Regions from separate parts of the Homo sapiens genome. Here region 2 is linked to region 1. Evidence: fine-mapped expression QTL. A gene starts in region 1. The other region holds a variant in brackets. All regions are shown on one strand. Distances are from middle to middle.

Region 1 (5,377 bases):
CCAAGGGAGAACGCTTCCTTGCTTCTTTCAGCTTCTGGTGGCTCCAGGTCTTCGTTGACTTGTGACTGCATCACTCCAGACTCTACCTCCACCTACACATGACGTTCTCTGTGTGTCCTTTAAAAGGACATGTGTCATTGGATTTAGGGTCTACCAGGATAATTCAGGATGATCTCATTTTGAGACCCTTAAGTACATTTGCAAAGACCCTTGATATGGTTTGGCTGTGTCCCCACCAAATCTCATCTTGAATTGTAGCTCCCATAATCCCCACGTGTCCTGGGAGGGACCCAGTGGGAGATAATTGAATTATGGGGGTGGTTTCCCCATACTGTTTTCGTGGTAGTGAATAAGTCTCACGAGATCTGATGGTTTTATAAGGGGAAAGCCTTTCACTTGGTTCTCATTCTCTCTTTGCCTGCCACCAGGTAAGACATCCCTTGCTCTTCCACCATGATTGTGAGGCCTCCCCAGCCATGTGGAACTGTGAGTCCATTAAATCTCTTTCCTTTATAAATTACCCAGTCTCAGGTATGTCTTCATTAGCAGCGTGAGAACAAACTAATACAACACTTTTTTGCAAATAAAGTCACATTTACAGCTTCCAGGGGTCAGGATGCCCCCAGTGTGTGTGGTGGTGAGGGGACAGGGGATCATTCATCCCACTACACTGCCCACCCTTCTGTAAATAGCTTTTTGTCCAGATTTGCTTTTGTTAAATCCTTTTGAGTATACCTCTGTGTCCTGCTGACTGATGCATTTCCTTCAAAAACATTTATAGCTACATACCTACCGTTTTTTAACAACTGCATAGAATTCTGTTGAATGGACAGACCTTAATTTACAATTAGCATTTAATGAACTCCTATTACCTGTCTCCTCCTGGTGCCCAGTGTGATGCTTTGCAAAGATGGATCTAAGGATGCCCCTATGGCAACATAATGTAGAAAGAACAAGTGGCCTCATCTATAACTCTGAACCTACACTGTGCGCTCCTCACCAGCGAGTTCTGTAGGTTTATGCTGTGGCAGATGCATGAGCTCCCTGCATTTGGGGCTCAGTAGGAAAGAGGCATATTCGAGGATGCCATGTTTGAGCTGGTCTTAGAGAGGGGATGGGAATGGGTTCAGAAAGATATTCCAGTGGCCAAAAGCACATGAAAGATGCTGTTTCATTAGTTATCGGGGAAATGCAAATCAAAACATTGAGTCACCACTGTACACCCACTAGAGTGGCTATGATTATAAAGACCCAATAACAAACACTGGAGGAGATGTGGAGATATTTGAACCTTCATATACCGCTGGTAGGAATATAAAATGGGGAAGCCACTTTGGATAACAGGTTAGCAGGTTCTAAAAAGGTTAAGCATAGAGTTACCATATGATCAGGCAATCCTACTCCTAGGAATATATCCAAGAGAAATAAGAACATATGCCCACACAGGAACTTACAGGTAAATGTTCACGGCAAGATTATTCACAGTAGCCACAAAGCGGAAACAACCCAAATGTCCATCATCAACTGATGAATAAATAAAATGTAATACATCCATATATGTAATACTATTCAGCAAAAAAAGTGTGGTGGCTCACGTCTGTAATCCCAGCACTTTGAAAGTTCAAGGCAGGTGGATTGCTTGAGCCCAGGAGTTCAAGACCAGCCTGGGCAACATGTTGAAACCTCGCCTCTACCAAAAAATTACCAAAAAAAAAAAATTAGCCAGGCATGGTGGCATGTGCCTGTAGTCCCAGCTGCTCAGGAGGCTGAGGTGGGAGGATGGCTTGAGCCTGGGAGGCGGAGGTTGCAGTGAGCTGAGATTGTGCCACTGCACTCCAGTCGGGGTGACAGAGCCCGACCCTGTCTCAAATAAATAAACAGATAAATAAAGTGCTGATTCATGCTGCAACATGGAAGAACTTTGAAAACATTATGCTAAGTGAAAGAAGTCAATTACAAAAGACTACATATTGTATTATTCCATTTACATGAAATGTCCATAACAGACAAATCCATAGAGACGGAAAGTAGATTAGTGGTTATCAGAGGGAAGGGAGAGGGAGGAATTGGAAGGTTATAGCTAAAGGGTGTGGTGTTTCTTTGGGGGTAATGAAAATGTCCTAGCATTGATTGTGGTGATGGCTGCACACCTCTGTAAATATAGTCAGCACCATTGAATTGTGCACTTTAAGTGGGTGAATTGCATGGTTTGTGATAAAGCTGTTAACAATAAGAAGGGGGGACGGAATGTCTTTTAGGTGAAGGAAATTGCAGAAGCTTGGCAGCAACGTCCAGTGCAGCTGAGGCACTGTGGGGAAACAGAAAGGAAATACCGTCATTTAAGAGTGAAAATAGGGGTTTTCATAGGATGTCTCCATCCAAGAGTAGGTACCGAGAATGCTCAGAGAAGCAATAGGAAAATAACATCCCTTTCACGTTCTCACCTCCTTAACCCCTAGCATAATAAAGAATTATTCCCATTTTATAGAAGTAGACACAAAGGCTCAGAGGCCATTTTGGCCAAGATCTCTCAGCTAGAAGATTGGCCAGCTGAGAGTTCCAAACATTAGGAAGGGAGGCAAAATGCTTGTGGGGCTGGGGTTGAAGGCGTAGAGACTCATTGTAGGGCCCTAGGCAGTCCCTAGCTCGAATCTGACTTTCCAATTCATAGTTATAAGACTTTGAGCAAGCTGCTTTACACGCACGATTCCCAGTTTATCTGCCTGCAAAATGAGAGCGTTTATTTCCAACATGTTCATTCCAAGTATTTACACAAAAGGCTCAATACTTGATTTGTGTTGGCTGGCAATCTCTCTAAACTTCACTTTCCCCATTTCTACGAGGAAGGCAAGGGTCCCTAATCTTGCCCCCGTTCTCAGGGGAGTCCTAAGGCTCAATAATAAAAATAAAATAAGAAAAAGGAGAGAACGCGATTGCCCGGTTGGCGCGACCCTTAACACCGAGCTAAACCGGCGCATGTTAGGGACCGGCGCCCCCTGCCGCCTTCTCCGCTGCATTGGCGTCTCACAGAATCCGCCCAAGGCCCTGCGCCTGCGCAAAATGCAAGCGCCCAGGCCCACCCCTTGTGGGGTGTGACCTCCCTGAGTAGTTTTGGATTAGCCACGCCTACTTCCGGACAGGTCAGGCCAAGGTCTCAGCCACGTGACTGTGTTCCGGCTCGGTAAAGATGGCGGCGCCCAGGGCGGTAGCGTGAAACTTGGTGGAAGACGCTGACCAGTCGTGTTGGAATCAAAACAGCGGGGACCCTGCGCCATGTCGCGACTGATCGTGAAGAATCTCCCGAATGGGGTGAGTGCAGAGGCAGGACTTGGGAATCTGAAATGAGACCAGCCGGGAGCTGTGAGGTAGGGAAGAGATGCCTGGAGGTGATCGAAGAATTTTTGCTCTGGGGCAGGACTCCGGGCCAATTCTGAACTCAAAGGGGGCGGGATCCTGGGCTTATCCCCATTTGATCCCGAGGAAAGAGGAATAGTGACTGCTTACGGTTTCACGGCCGGTTGTTTGGTACCTGACTCCTAACACACCTCTTCTCGGGGAGATGACAACTCCCACCTTGTGGCGAATACCCTGCTCCCACAACCTCTTTCATTCGATCACTGTTTTTTAGTTGTTGACCCGGGACATGGTCCGACACTGTATTTATATTCCTCTCCCAGTCTGGAAACTGTTGGGGAAGACATGGGGAATATTAATCTGCGGACCTGCGTTCCAATTCCCACTCCCATCCTTAGGGCAAGTAGGAATACGGAGTGGGTAAAGGGCTTTACAGCATTTATCCAGTAAGTGGGGAGTGGTGACCCAGCCATACTTTTTTGTTTCCCTGGAGCCCAGCGCAGAACCCGACACGTGGTAGGCAAAATAGGTGAATGTACGTAATATTAGATGATTAGATGCGGTGGGCTCGAATGGATCATCCTTTTTTCTCTCTCTCGCTGTTTTTTGTTCTGTTTTGTTTTTTTGTTTTTAAATGGATTACTGCTCCTTCCATCAGGTTAGACAGTGTCTCTTGATGCCTCGCTTTGTGGGATGAGGATTTTTAGCGTAGCTGCACTTCCTTTCCCTCCCAAATTCAGCTTTGTTGTGTTTCAAGTGTAGTTGATTCTCTTATCATTGTTTGTCTTATCTCTTTTTTTTCTCTCTCTTTCATGGCTTTTTTTGGTTTTGTTTTTTGTTTTTTTCTTTTTTTGTTTTTTTTTTTTAAACGGAGTCTGGCTCTGTCTCCCAGGCTGGACTGCGGTGGAGCAATCTCGGCAGTCTCGGCTCACTGCAACTTTTGCCTCCCGGGTTCTAGCGATGCTCCTGCCTCAGCCTCCCAAGTAGCTGGGACTACAGACACGCGCCACCAAGCCCGACTAATTTTTTTATTTTTAGTAGAGACATGGGGTTTCGCCATGTTGGACAAGTTGGTCTCGAACTCCTGACCTCAGGTGATCCACCGCCTCGGCCTCCCAAAGTGCTGGGATTACAGGCGTGAGCCACTGCACCTGGCCCCCATTTCTGTTCTAATGTTGTGAGTTTTTTCCTTTCCTTTTTTTTTTTTCATTTGTCAGGTGGGACAAAGGAACTTTGTAACACACAGTTTTCAAAATTCAAACAGTATAGTAGTGTATAACATGAGTAGCAAAGTCTTTGCTCTGTCCTACCTTCCCTCTCTGTCCAGGAGTAACCATCTTCATTGATTTGTTTTTGGGACTCCTCACATGTATCTCTGTATATTTGAGGAGTGTACTTTCCTCCTTTTGACCTGCCTGCCCCAGTGACTATCTGCTAGGCCTCAACTGTGAAAAATAAGGAATTTAGATCATCTGTTCCTCCTCTCCAGTGTCTGTAATATTCTTGTTTTTAATTATCCTGTTATAATCTCTGAGTAGTATACTTAAAAATATCTATTACTCATCCATCCATCAGGTTAGACATGTCTCTTGATGCCTTGCTTTGTGCGATGAGGATTTTTAGCGTGGCTGCACTTCCTTTTCTTCCCAAATTCAGCTTTGTTGCACTTCACAGTGTAGTTGACTCTCTTATCATTGTTTGTCTTATCTCATGAATGAAAGAATAATAAAAACAAGGGCAGTTGCAGCTGACACTTGGAGAGTTTACTGTGTGCCAGGCACTGTTCCAGGTGCTTTAGGTAAAGTAACATTTAATCCTCACCATATCCCTGTGAGGTAAGTTTTATTTTTACGCCCATTTTAAAGGTAAAGAAACCAAGATACAGCGAGGTACAGGGATTTGCCTGAGGTCACACACTGGTGTAATTTATAGAGCAGGGATTGAATTGAGCAATCTTTAGTTTAGGGATTGAATTGAGGAAATAATTAGTAGTGAGTACTTGTGATATTGCTGACACTGTAGA
Region 2 (5,377 bases), 150 kb after region 1:
GGCTCAGTTAGCTGGGAGGAACGGGGACAGGCTGTTTCCAGAGTGGAGGGCTGGCTGGAACCGCATCTGCTGTCCTCACGTCCGTCTCCCACCCGCTGTGGGTCTCAGGGGCCTGGCCCCTTGAGCTGTGTCTCTGAAACTCCCTTATCAAGAGGCTTGTGTTCAGTTTGGCCAGCAGTGGGCACTAGCGGGCGCCTGGAAGGCTGGTAGAAGAGAAACTCCAGGCATCCCGCCCTCTCCCTCTGTCCCACGTGGCGTCTCCACCAAGGGTCCACCCCTGGATGGGTGAGGAGGGCCCTGGCATCTCTACTATAGGATACACACAGTCAGACTGCAGGAGGGAGATGGGTGGTCAGACAGGTCCTGGAGAACAGACAGGGGTGAGGGACAGTGGGGCCTGGAGGAGGGACAGGAGTGAGAGACAGTGGGGACGGGAGGAGGAGAGCGGAATGCACAGGCCCTGACTCCAAAGGCCTGCGTTAGAATCTCTAGGCTCTCAGTGTCTCCAGGCCTTGCGTTCCATGTCTTTCAAATGGGTGCAGGAATTCCTGCCTCATTGGATTGGTTAAGACAGAAACAGAAGGTCATGAATGGAAAGTAGTTAGCAGACTGTGTCATGCCTAGTGAGTACTTAGTAATGGTAGTTGCCATCATTATTGTGAACATAACTTCAAAACAAGGCAAGCTTGTGGGGCTGCACCCAGCAGATGTCAGGCCAGCTGGGCCCACGTCCAGAGGCTGGGGCGGGATAGGGACTCACAGGGCGCTGCGCCATGTTGGGGAGGAGCCTATGATCCAGGAAGGAGCCTGTAGGAGGTGCCCCCCTGCCCACTGGCCCCAGTAGGCAAACCAGCACCTGGCTCTTCCTGCACAGAACCAAAGTTCAAGCCCAAATGGGCCAATGGTTGTGGGGAAACAGGTGAGCACCCCCACAGGAGCAGCTGCCTGTCTATTGCTGTGTCTGTGTGTCTGTTCCTAACCCTTTCTTTTTTTTTTTTTTTTTTTTTTTTGAGACAAAGTCTCGCTCTGTTCCCCAGGCTGGAGTGCAGTGGCGTGATCTGGGCTCACCTCCCTGGTTCAAGCGATTGTCCCGCCTCAGCCTCCCAAGGCTGGGATTACAGGTATGCACCACCACGCCCGGCTAATTTTGTATTTTTCATAGAGACTGGGTTTCACCATGTAGACCAGGCTGGTCTCGAATTCCTGACCTCAAGTGATCCACCTACCTCGGCCTCCCAAAGTGTGGGGATTACGGGTGTGAGCCACCACGCCCGGCTAATTTTTTGTATTTTTAGTAGACAGGGTTTCACCATGTGGGCCAGGCTGGTCTTGAACTCCCAACCTCAAGTGATCCACCCACCTTGTTCTCCCAAAGTGCTGAGATTACAGGTGTGAGCCACCATGCCCAGCCTGTTCCTAACCCTTTCAACTGGGGGGTCTCAAGTGGGTGAGGACTCCATGGCCACGGCAGCAGAACTGTCTCTTCTGAAAACCAGACTCCGGGGCCCCTGGGTCAGCACCTCTAGGTCATTCCACAGACTTACACAGTTTAAAGAAAGAGCCAGCGAACATGGGGTGATCCTGGGGTGCCACTGGGATCCCAAGCCAGGCCCGGAGGTCTGCCTGTTTCGTCCCCAGAAACTTGAGCTGGCATCCTCCGCTGGTTTGCACTGGGCACGGGGACTGGAGAGCCACCAGGCCACTGAGCGCAGCATGCTATCACTTCTCAGGAAGTTGTGAGGGTGAGGAGAATAGCCGGGCCCACTCTGCAGAGGGGAGGAACAGGCACAGGCTAGAGGCACGGGCTGATAGAGTGAGTCCTCTCCCTCATTCATTCATTCATTCATTCATTCATCCATCAGACACCTGCTGGGCATCTGCTGTGTGCGAGACACTGTGCTGGGTGCCCCAGACACAAGACAGAAACTCGGGTCGCTCTGTGTGCCTCCACACTGGCCTTCCCTGCTGCGTGGACGCAGGCTCTGTCTCCTAGGCTTTAAGCCCCATGCATCAGGTGGAAGACAATTTCCAGCAGCCTCTGCCCGCTTGTTTTTCCTCCTCTCCTTTTCCTGCCGCCTTGGTCTTTTTTGTCTTTTGTGCAGGGCCGTCTCTCGCAGCGCCCGTCTGTGCTCCGCAGCGTCTAGGAAAGGATTAGTGTGAGCAGAGCA[C/T]GCAGGCTTTGGTGAACAGAGCCGAGCTTGGTTTCAACATCTAATTCAATTTGTTCTGCCGAGATTGAAATATGAAATGGTTGCCAGTCAAACGTTCAAAGGACGGGGAAGGGAGAGTGAGCGCATGCTGAAATTTAAATTTTAATGAAAATGACTTTAACCCTTTGGTACACCTTGCAAAATGTAACCCATCCTCCCATCCTGTGAAAGCGGCCTCTCGGGTTAGAGCTTTTCCACCCACTTCTCTTCCACTGAGCTTCACTAATAATATGTAATCATTTTTTTCAGCCGTCTTAATAATAAAAGATTAATAGAATGCTTGCATAATAATAATTTATTCACCCATGCCGCCTAGGCCATTGAAATAGTCACCTTGCCTAGATGACTTTCCCAAGCCCCATCCTAGACAAGCCCCGGCCCCTCGTTAGATTCACTCGTCACACCGAACACCTCCCTAGCTCCTTACAGCTGTGAACAGTTTCTGTGTTTTTATTTCATGTCTGACCTCTCTCTCTGGACCGGAAGTCCCAGGAGAGCAAGGTCTGTGCCCATTTTGTGCGTGCTGCATCGTGGAGTAGATGCTTAGTAAATACTCGAGGAAGGAATCAGTGGCCCCACTTTGTCCTTTTAGCAACTGTGAGAGGTAAGTTGATGGGAGATGTAGAAATGGAGAGGTGGGTGACATTCCCAAGATGGCGCTGCACAGAGGGCTGCCACCAGGCTCACACTCAGCTCGCTCTGGCACAAGCCCAAGCCCCTACCTCCCCAGAGCAGTGAGGGCAGTTCCCACATGCAGGGGGCCCGGCCCTATGCTGGGTTTCAGAGGCACACCCTGTGCTCTCGCTCCTGCTGCAGGGCCTGAACTGCTGTCTCCTCTTTACAGCGAGGGCAGGCCCAATGTGTGCCAGCTCGAGCCTTATCCTCAAGGCAGCAAGAGCAGGCCCAATGTGTGCCGACTCGAGCCCTGTCCTCAAGGCGGTGTGGGTGAAGGGCTCTCTCTCCTCACCCCCAGTGAGATTCTCCTATTCAGCTCCTGCTTGCCATGGAACCCCTAGTGTGTTTTTTGTTTTGTTTTTAAATATCAAATGCCATCAGTGCCGGACCAGTGGGCATGCGTGGCAGCTCATTATGGCTGTGGACAGACAGTGCCAGGCATTGACCAGGCATCATAGGTTTTCAGGGTAGAGTGGGATGATGGGGGCAGCCCTGAGACCACCTTCAGGACAGTTGGCTTCCAAGGACTGAGTCCTTGGCTTCATCCTCCAGGGCTCATACAGACCAGGAGCGCAAGGGAGAGGTTCAAACCTGAAACACCCAGCAAATGTGTGTTGAGCTTATGTGCACCAGGCATGGCCATGATGCTGGGAATGCAGGAGTTGACACAGCAGATAAGACTCCCTGGCCTCGAGGAGCTGGTAGTCAAATGTGGGGAGACCCAGACATGAGTGGGTGGAGGATTGCTTCCCTGGCACTGCTGAGGCTCCATTCTCTCTGGGGATGTCTGGCAGGGTCAAGGAAGGGCTCCCTGAGGAGGTGGCATGTGAGCAGAGCTGGGAGGAAGGGGACAGCTCTGTGTGCTCAAGGGAGAGTGAGGGGGACAGCCCGGGCCCCAGAAAAAGCCAGGGAGAGTGGGCAGGGGCCTGCCAACCCGGCTCAGGCTTGGGTGTCAAGTCTGGGCCTGTGGAGGGGAGCAGAGCCGGCCCAGTCTGCCACCATGTTAAGGATCAATAGCAGAAGGTCAAGGACTGAAGCAGGGACAGGTGTTCAGAAGCCATTGCAGTGGCCAGGAGAGCAGGGAGGTGGTGACTCAGAGCAGGGAGGTGGCAGTGGAGGGGTGAGGTGGCCCAAGCCTGTAGACAGACTGAAAATGCAGCCAGTGGCCTAAAGGTTTGGCTGTGGGGTGTGCACAACCAAGGCTAGCGCCCTGGCTCCAGCCCAAGCAGTGGGAAGAAGGAAGCTAGTGTGCGCTGAGACCATTGCAGGAAGAGCTGGCTTGGAGGGAAGCAGGAACTGGCTTTAAACTCGGTAAGCTGTTGACTGCTAAGAGGTGGAGAACACACCGGAGGATACGTGTCTCAGGTTGAGGAGAGAGGGTTGGACCGAGGTATAACAGGAAATTATCCTTCTTTGGTTAAGAAATCTAAAAGGGGCCAGCCTCGGTGCTTCACTCCTGTAATCCCGGCACTTTGGGAGGCTGAGGTGGGAGGATCGCTTTGAGGCCAGGAGTTCGAGACCAGCCTGGGCAACATAGGGAGACCCCATCTCTACAAATAATTTTTAACATTAGCCGGCTGTGGTAGTGTGGGCCTGTGGTCCCAGCTACTCAGGAGGCTGAGGTGGGAGGATCACTTGAGCCCAGGAGGTCGAGGCTGCAGTGAGCCATGATCACACCATCGCACTCCAGCCTGGGCAATGGAGTGAGATGCTGTCTCCCAAAAAAAAAGGGAAAAAAAAAGAAATCTAAGAGTCAGCATGGGAACTAACAGCCCCGTGTAGACAGACCTGGGAAATCTCATAGCTTCAATGCTTCAAGTTAATTTTTTTATTTTATTTTTTTTTTTTTTGAGATGGAGTCTCACTCTGTCGCCCAGCCTGGAGTGCAGTGGCGCGATCTTGGCTCACTGCAGCCCCTGCCTCTCTGGGTTCAAGCAGTCCTCCCACTTCATCCTCCCAAGTAGCTGAGATTACAGGCATGCACCACTATGCCTGGCTAAGTTTTGTATCTTTAGTAGAGGTGAGGTTTTGCCATGTTGGCCAGACTGGTCATGAACTCCTGACCTCAGATAATCCTCCTGCCTCGTCCTCCCAAAGTGCTGGGATTACAGGCATGAGCCACTGCACAGGCCTCAAGTTCATTTTGAAGCCACTTCTAGATGGTTCCAAACTCCTTTGGCCCCAGAACCCGTTTCCCAAACAAATGTCTTAAACAGATTAAGCAAAACTGCTTTGTTCCAAGTCAGGGTACAGGCCTGACCTCCCCCACCCAGACTCCTCTTCCCCCTCAACACCTCAGTGATTTGAAAAACACTGACCTAGGCCTGGCGCGGTGGCTTACGCCTGTAATCCCAGCACTTTGGGAGGCCAAGGTGGGTCATCGCAAAGTCAGGAGATGGAGACCATCCTGGCTAACATGGTGAAACCCCATCTCTACTAAAAATATAAAAAATTAGCCGGGCATGGTGGCACGTGCCTGTAGTCCCAGCTACTCG

The links.
Region 2: its variant is fine-mapped to the expression of RBM19 in whole blood (TOPMed, PIP above 0.99). The same link has a PIP of 0.9 or more in skeletal muscle.

Annotation. Positions count from the first base shown.
Region 1 is chr12:113,964,124-113,969,500 of GRCh38, reverse strand. RBM19 (RNA binding motif protein 19) reads left to right here and starts at 3,176. Exons shown (of 24, transcript NM_016196.4): 1 at 3,176-3,309. The coding sequence starts at 3,274. RefSeq lists enhancers at 2,870-2,939, 2,898-3,825, 3,826-4,754.
Region 2 is chr12:113,813,847-113,819,223 of GRCh38, reverse strand. It overlaps a transcript of RBM19 not described here. Among named protein-coding and RNA genes, the nearest start is that of LINC01234, 43 kb to the right of the region's middle. RefSeq lists enhancers at 1-348, 349-1,276. The variant C/T (reference allele first, on the strand shown) is at 2,169.